Linked DNA regions of Homo sapiens. The protein of the gene in region 1 interacts with the protein of each later gene in a biochemical or structural test. Each region holds a gene or a part of one and is shown on either strand. Other genes may lie near its edges.

Evidence for each region. The genes of interacting proteins can lie anywhere in the genome.
Region 2: the proteins of NSMCE4A (region 1) and TRIM31 form a complex in vitro, tested with the Homo sapiens proteins (one study listed by BioGRID).

The regions. Positions count from the first base shown.
Region 1 is NC_000010.11:121,968,655-121,972,302, reverse strand, and holds part of NSMCE4A (non-structural maintenance of chromosomes element 4 homolog A), read left to right. Parts: intron 1-1,233; coding exon 1,234-1,364; intron 1,365-3,648. UniProt on the Homo sapiens protein: Component of the SMC5-SMC6 complex, a complex involved in DNA double-strand breaks by homologous recombination. The complex may promote sister chromatid homologous recombination by recruiting the SMC1-SMC3 cohesin complex to double-strand breaks.
Region 2 is NC_000006.12:30,106,508-30,110,155, reverse strand, and holds part of TRIM31 (E3 ubiquitin-protein ligase TRIM31), read left to right. Parts: intron 1-1,107; coding exon 1,108-1,130; intron 1,131-1,968; coding exon of another isoform or gene 1,969-1,987; coding exon 1,988-2,103; intron 2,104-2,368; exon of another isoform or gene 2,369-2,493; intron 2,494-3,648.

The sequences.
Region 1 (3,648 bases):
GCCCAGGCTGGAGTGCAGTGGCATGATCTTGGCTCACTGCAACCTCTGCCCCCCCCAGGTTAAAGCTATTCTCCAGCTTCAGCCACCCGAGTAGCTGGGATTACAGGTGTGCACCACCATGCCCAGCTAATTTTTGATTCTTTAGTAGAGATGGGGTTTCACCACGTTGCCCAGGCTGGTCTCAAACTTTGGAGCTCAAAGTGATCCGCCTGCCTCGGCTTCCCAAAGTGTAGGGATTACAGGCATGAGCTGCTGTGCCCAGCCTGTTTCTGCATTAATTTAAATCTTTTTTTTCCATAGCTTTTCTTAAATCCCATGTCCTCTGTCAAGCCTTTTTTGAGTATCCGTCCTCGGGTCACTACCTGCTACCTGTAGACTGTTCATTTGGGTGGCTTTGCTGGGGTTGCCTGTGAAGCCATACAGAGGCATGAGCCTCCTAGTGCCAGCCTAGCACATGCCATGATTTTGGTTAGCAACTTTAGCAACTTACCTATTGCTTAGCAGCTTACCTATTGCTGTTCACAAACCACCATGCCAAGCACAGGGCCCTACATGTAGTGGGAATTTGATTTTCCTTACGTCAGCACACATGATCATCGTGATTAGGATGGAGGGAAAAGTGAGTATTAGACATGACGGGTTTTGCTCAACTGGAGTTATTTAAGAGATTGTGATTCAGCTAACAGTAGGAGAACTAGACAGAAAGCTGGCTTTTAGGAAGACTGGTCAGCTTTCATTAGAGATTTTGGTGAGTTGGGCACAGGAGAAAGTTTTTTTTTGTTTTTGTTTTTGTTTTGAGACAGCCTCTTGCTCTGACACCCAGGCTGGAGTGCAGTGGCGCGATCTTGGCTTACTGCAAGCTCTGCCTCCCGGGTTCACGCCATTCTGCCTCAGCCTCCCAAGTAGCTGGGACTACAGGCGCCCGCCACCACGCCCTGCTAATTTTTTGTATTTTTAGTAGAGCTGGGGTTTCACCGTGTTAGCCAGGATGGTCTCGATCTCCTGACCTCGTGATCCGCCCGCCTTGGCCTCCCAAAGTGCTGGGATTACAGGCTTGAGCCACCGCACCTGGCCAGGAGCACGTTTTAGAAGGAGATGTGTCAGTTGCCTATTGAGATTTTTTTTTTTTTTTAGTCCAGTGGGAAATCCTGGTAAGTAGTTGGAAATGTAGGGAAAAAGTCTATGGATAATGTGTATTTTGTAATGTGAATATTTTCTTTCTTTTTTGAATAGTGTCCCGAGCAAGAGAAGCAGTCCTGGATGCCCACTTTCTTGTTTTGGCTTCAGATTTGGGCAAAGAGAAAGCAAAGCAGCTGCGCTCAGACCTGAGCTCCTTTGACATGTTAAGATATGTTGAAACTCTAGTAAGTTCAAAGCTACAGACTCTGAATAAAAAATGTTCTGTTATATATTATAATTATTTACTGTGCTCATATCCATATGCAGATGATTTCACTTCATTCTTCTTTTTTGGTCTCAGATTCCTCTGTAGAGATCTTACCAATTTAAACAGACGAAAGTAGAACCATGTGGTGGAATCTTGGGTGGGGGCTTGGAGTAAAAATCTCGTAGCATTCTGTCTTAAGATGCTGGGTGCTATGGTCATTTGCCAATGGCCATTTTTCCTCTGTTCACTGGTGTTCTAGATCATTCTCAGTGACCTCAGACCTTTGTCCTGGGCTGGACAAAAGCCCACTCTGCGATGGCAGAGCTCAGCTGGAATTGAGTTAGGCCTGGCGAGAGGGCATGTTTTGGTCTGTCTTTGAGAATATTTCAAAACCATGTGAATATGATTGGGTTTTGCTTTTTTTTTTTTTTTTTTTTTTCCTTTGAGACAGAGTCTCGCTCTGTCGCCCAGGCTGGAGTGCAGTGGCGTGATCTCGGCTCACTGCAAGCTCTGCCTCCTGGGTTCACGCCATTCTCCTGTCTCAGCCTCCCAAGTAGCTGGGACTACAGGCGCCTGCCACCACGCCCGGCTAATTTTTTGTATTTTTAGTAGAGACGGGGTTTCATCATGTTAGCCAGGATGGTCTGGATCTCCTGATCTCGTGATCTGCCCGCCTTGGCTTCCCAAAGTGCTGGGATTACAGCCGTGAGCCACCTAGCCCAGCCAGGTTTTGCTTTTTTGGTTTTATGTTTTATTCACCTTTCTTTGTCTCTTGACAAGTTTGAATAGTGGTTACCTGCAATTCTAAAACTGTTCCTTGATGAATTTACCAAAAAAGAAAAAGCACACAGAGACTGACCTTGTATCTCACTTTGTTGTCTTTTTAAAAAATTCTATTCTGGCTGGGGGCAGTGGCTCACGCCTGTAATCCCAGCACTTTGGGAGGCTGAGGCGGGTGGATCACCTGAGGTCAGAAGTTTCAGACCAGCCTGGCCACCATGGTGAAAGCCCGTCTCTACTAAAAATAGAAAAATTAGCTGGGTGTGGTGGCAGGCGCCTGTAATCCCAGCTACTCGGGAGGCTAAGGCAGGATAATCCCTTGAACCCAGGAGGCAGAAGTTGCAGTGAGCCGAGATCGCGCCACTGCACTCCAGCCTGGGCTACAGAGTGAGACTGCACCTCAAAATCAATCAATCAATCAGTCAATCTGTCAATCTGAGCCAACCTCTGTCCTAGCACAGATAGCTGCACCTCAGTATGAATATTGCATTTCTAACTGGATGTTTATGTTAAATGGTTATTAAAATAATTTAGTACTATGAGATCTGATCAGATAATTTTTTTGTAAAGGCATGAGGCACCAGATTATTTCCAGTTTGTTTTTCAAACCTTTTCCTTTTTTTTTTTTTTTTTTAACTTTTTTTTATTGTGAAACATAATGCACTTAGGAAAGTGCACTGTAATATAGAGGTCAATAAAGTAACCATGTATTGGGTATTTCTTTAAAAATTACTTTATCAGGTTAAGCTCTATTTTTTTATTTTTTGAGACAGAGTCTTGCTCTTGTTGCCCAGGCTGGAGTGTTGCCCATGCTGGAGTGTTGCCCAGGCTGGAGTGCAGTGGCACGATCTCAGCTCACCGCAACCTCCACCTCCTGGGTTCAAGCGATTCTCCTGCCTCAGCCTCCCAAGAAGCTGGCATTACAGGTGCCTGTCCCCACGCCTGGCTAATTTTTAGTAGAGGTGGGGTTTCGCCATGTTGGCCAGGCTGGCCTCGAACTCCTGACTTCGTGATCCACCCGCCTGGACTTCCCAAAGTGCTGGGATTACAGGCATGAGCCACCGTGCCCGGCCAAGCTCTGTACTTTAAATAACATATCAAAATAAATTCTGGAAGTCTTAAAGCATTAAATATAAAACCTTAAATTAATAGTTGTCCAGTCTCTGGGTGGAGAAGACTTTCGTATGTATAGCATCAAATATAGACACTATAAGGAAAGATTGGTGGATTTCTCTGTCAGTTAAACAGACCAAAACTGCCACGTCTGCCTACAAGGGTGCAGTGGTAGTTCGGGCGGCAAGGGAATGGAGAAGAGCTGGCCATAGCGCTCTGACCAGGCTCTTGTAGCCTTTCTTTTCTTTAAAGTCTGATTGCCTTTAATAGGGTTAAGCTCCCTGAGGGTTTTGTGATTATTGTTTATATATGATATTGCCATCGTAATTGGATAACTTCTAGGCATTTTACAGTATAATGTAATAAAA
Region 2 (3,648 bases), on another chromosome or scaffold:
TTTTAATAAAATATTTTAACTCAATATATCTGAAATATTATCCTTTCAGCCTGTAATGAATATTTTAAAAGTATTAATGAGATATTTCACATTCTGGGTTTTTGGTGGTTTTTTTTTTTTTTTTTTTTACACTGAGTCTTTGAAATTGTGTGTATATTTTTCACTTTGGCACATCTCAATTCAGATGCTAAATTGTCAATTGTTAAAGTAAAATATAGTCTTACCAAATCAATAAAGTTGTGTTTAATGGAAAAAGTACTTTACCCTTCTTCTATTTATTTTATTTTATTTTTTGAGATGGAATCTTGCTCTGTTGCCCAGGCTGGAGTACAGTGGCGCGATTTTGGCGCACTACAACTTCCGCCTCCTAGGCCCAAGTCCCAAGTAGCTGGGATTACAGGTCCCCACCACCACGCCCAGCTAATTTTTGTATTCTTAGCAGACACGGGGTTTTACCATGTTGGCCAGGATGGTCTCGAACTCCTGACCTCAAGTGATCTGCCCACCTCAGCCTCCCAAAGTGCTGGGATTACAGGCGTGAACCACCGTGCCTGGCCTCTATTTTTAATTTAAATTTGAATTAGTAAAAATGAAATTAAAAATTCAGTTCTTTGTCACACTAGCCACAATTTCCAATGTTCAGTAGCCACATGTGGTTGGTGGCTACCATATTGGACAGTGCAAGTCTAGCTGGTGCTTAAAATAAGCTGAGATGATTCCTCCTCAAGTCATCTATTCTCCCACAGGTTCAAAAACCTATTTATTTATTTTAAGAAAGATCATGCAAAGCCATTCTAGCCTTTCTCCTGCCCTGGCTAGCAGGCTCCCTTGTTCAGTCTCAGAGCCAAATTCATCTTCTAAATCTCACTCTTCTCTTCTTCACTCAGTTCTTCTTGAGGTCAAAACACTTTTCTGCTTACTGGCAGAGCAGTGCTTCTTGGAGAAGCCCTTCGTGGTGGGGAGAGGGGAGGAGGATGGGGTAAGAGAGACTTGGAGGGGTTCTTACTCCTCCTGCTCTGCCCCACACCCAGCAGGCTCTGTATCTCCTCCTTGGCTCCTGGGAATCAGCCAAGTGCTGAGGCTGTGCTGTTTCTCTTTCTCTTCTAGGATATCAAAGTCGTCTTGTGCAGGTATGATGGGCCACCCCAAATGTATTTTGCCTACTGATTCATCCACACACAATTCTCAGCGTATATCCAAATGCAGTCAACATTCCTCTCTCAGAAATACCCACCCACCTCTAACTCTGCATTCATACATTTAGGCTGCAGCCGGGGAATGCCTATGCCAACCATATTAGCACGTGGTTGGTTGTTAAAGAAACCAGCTGTTTTCTCAGCCTTCCTCCTTCTTCAGCACAGATTCTACTATTTCCTGAATGCCCCCTTGCTCAACTGAATAGCTCCTGGGTCCCCTACTCTGTCTCCCTGACCCTGTTTTTTTCCCTCCTCTCTGTCTCCATCTCCCATCTTCATTTCCATATCTCCCTATGCCCTACCTCACTCCCGCCCCATATCCCTAGCCCTGACTTTCTGACTCCCAGCTCACTATCCCTTAACCGCCAGGTCTTCTTTTTTTTTTTTTTTTTTTTTTTTTGAGATGGAGCTTTGCTCTTGTTGCTCAGGCTGGAGTGCAGTGGTGCAATCTCAGCTCACTGCAACCTTTGTCTCCCAGGTTCAAGTGATTCTCCTGCCTCAGCCTCCCAAGTAGCTGAGACTACAGGCGCTTGCCACCAAGCCTGGCTAATTTTCATATTTTTAGTAGAGACCAGGTTTTACCATGTTGGCCAGGCTAGTCTTGAACTCCTGACCTCAGGTGATCCACCCGCCTCAGCCTCCCAAAGTGCTGGGATTACAGGTGTGAGCCACTGCTCTCAGTTCTACCCCCAGGTCTTCATCCCCTCATTTCTCAACCGCGTATCTCAGATCCTCCTTCTCCCACACCTCATCCCCTGATCTCACCAACCAGCTCAACCACATCTTCCTAGAAGTGAAGAGTTTCAGTTTCTCAACCCAACCCCTGTTCCTCTGGAACTGGAGAAAAAACTCAGTGAAGCAAAATCAAGACATGACTCCATCACAGGGAGCCTAAAAAAATTCAAAGGTAAGGAAGAGGCTGTATTTTCTCTATTCACCTACTTCCAGGAGATTCTCTCCCTGCTCACTCCACTGAAATGGAACTGTGACTCATACATGCCAACAATCCCTGGGCCCTTCTAGTGCCAGGCTTCTGGCTGAGTACTTTCCACGCATCAGTATGCCTCCTCCCAGGCATTTCTTATATTCTGTCTTTGTGATATGTTATTTATCTGCCTCCCTGACTCCTGCGAGAGCCATAGAGGGCCTGGACCTATTCCCCATGTGGACACCTGGCCTAGAGCAGTGGCTGTTGGGAAGTTGGTGATGAGTTGTCTGGTGGACCAGAGATGGCCTCAGGCAGGGACTGTCATCTCTGACTTCTCCTTCTCTGGTGCACACTGGTGTCTCCTCCTGCCTACAGAAGAAGAGAAAATAAATTCAAAATCAGTGACATTCTGGGGAGAAACCTCTTCCAGCCTTACAGGGAAACAGAAATCAGCAGAACAGTAGTGGATGACTTGGGTTTTAGATGTTCGCCAGATATTTTTCATAAACCTTTCTGTGTTTGCAACTAGGAAGAAGGGTTAGTATTTGTAAGGACTCCCCTTAATGTGAAGACTGTGTTGGTCTAAGGTGGGCATAAAGACAGCTAGATGGAATCTTCTGAAATTATCACCTGGAGTTCCACACCCACCTCCCCCACCCCAACCCCCAGCCCCCCATACACAAACACTTCCCCTTGGGACTACGGAAAAGGAGGACCAGGGCAATGCCCCAAGATCTCCACCCATTCAGCCGGGAATCTCCACTCGGCAGACATAAACAGGAAAGCATGTTTTGTTTTATTCTTAATTTTGTTGTCTGAGCTTTTCTTTTGTCCACTAACTGCTCTGCTTTGTCTAGCTCCTCCCACCCCACTGGGCATGATCTCAGCCGATCTAGCAACTTTATTTATTTGTTTATTTATTTATTTATTTTTGATGGAGTTTTGCTCTTATTGCCCAGGATAGAGTGCAGTGGCGCAATCTCGGCTCACTGCAACCTCCGCCTTCTGGTTTCAAGCGATTCTCCTGCCTCAGCTTCCCAAGTCGCTGGTGTTACAGGCGCACACCACCATGCCCAGCTAGTTTTTTGTATTTTTAGTAGAGACGGGGTTTCACCAGGTTGGTCAAGCTGGTCTCGAACTGCTGACTTGTGATCCACCCGCCTCAGCCTCCCAAAGTGCTGGGATTACAGGCGTGAGCCACCACGTCCAGCCCGATCCAGCACCTTTCTAGGCTCTTCAGGTCAAGAATAGTTTGGTTCTAGTTTGGAATTTCAATAAAGGAGCCCAGCCCTTTCCACTTCATCAGGTTTGGAGTTGGGGAGACTGGTGTGCTCTACTCTGTATCCCCCTTTTCTTTCCCTCTTTCACATACACAAACTCACACACACACAGTCCCCCAACTCCCACCTGGCCCTATTTCCTTCTTTTTTTTTTCTCTTATTTTTATTTTATTTTTACCCCAAAGAAGAAGGCACAATGGCCACCTGGCCCTATTAAAGCCTAGGAAATACAGGAGGTGGTAGG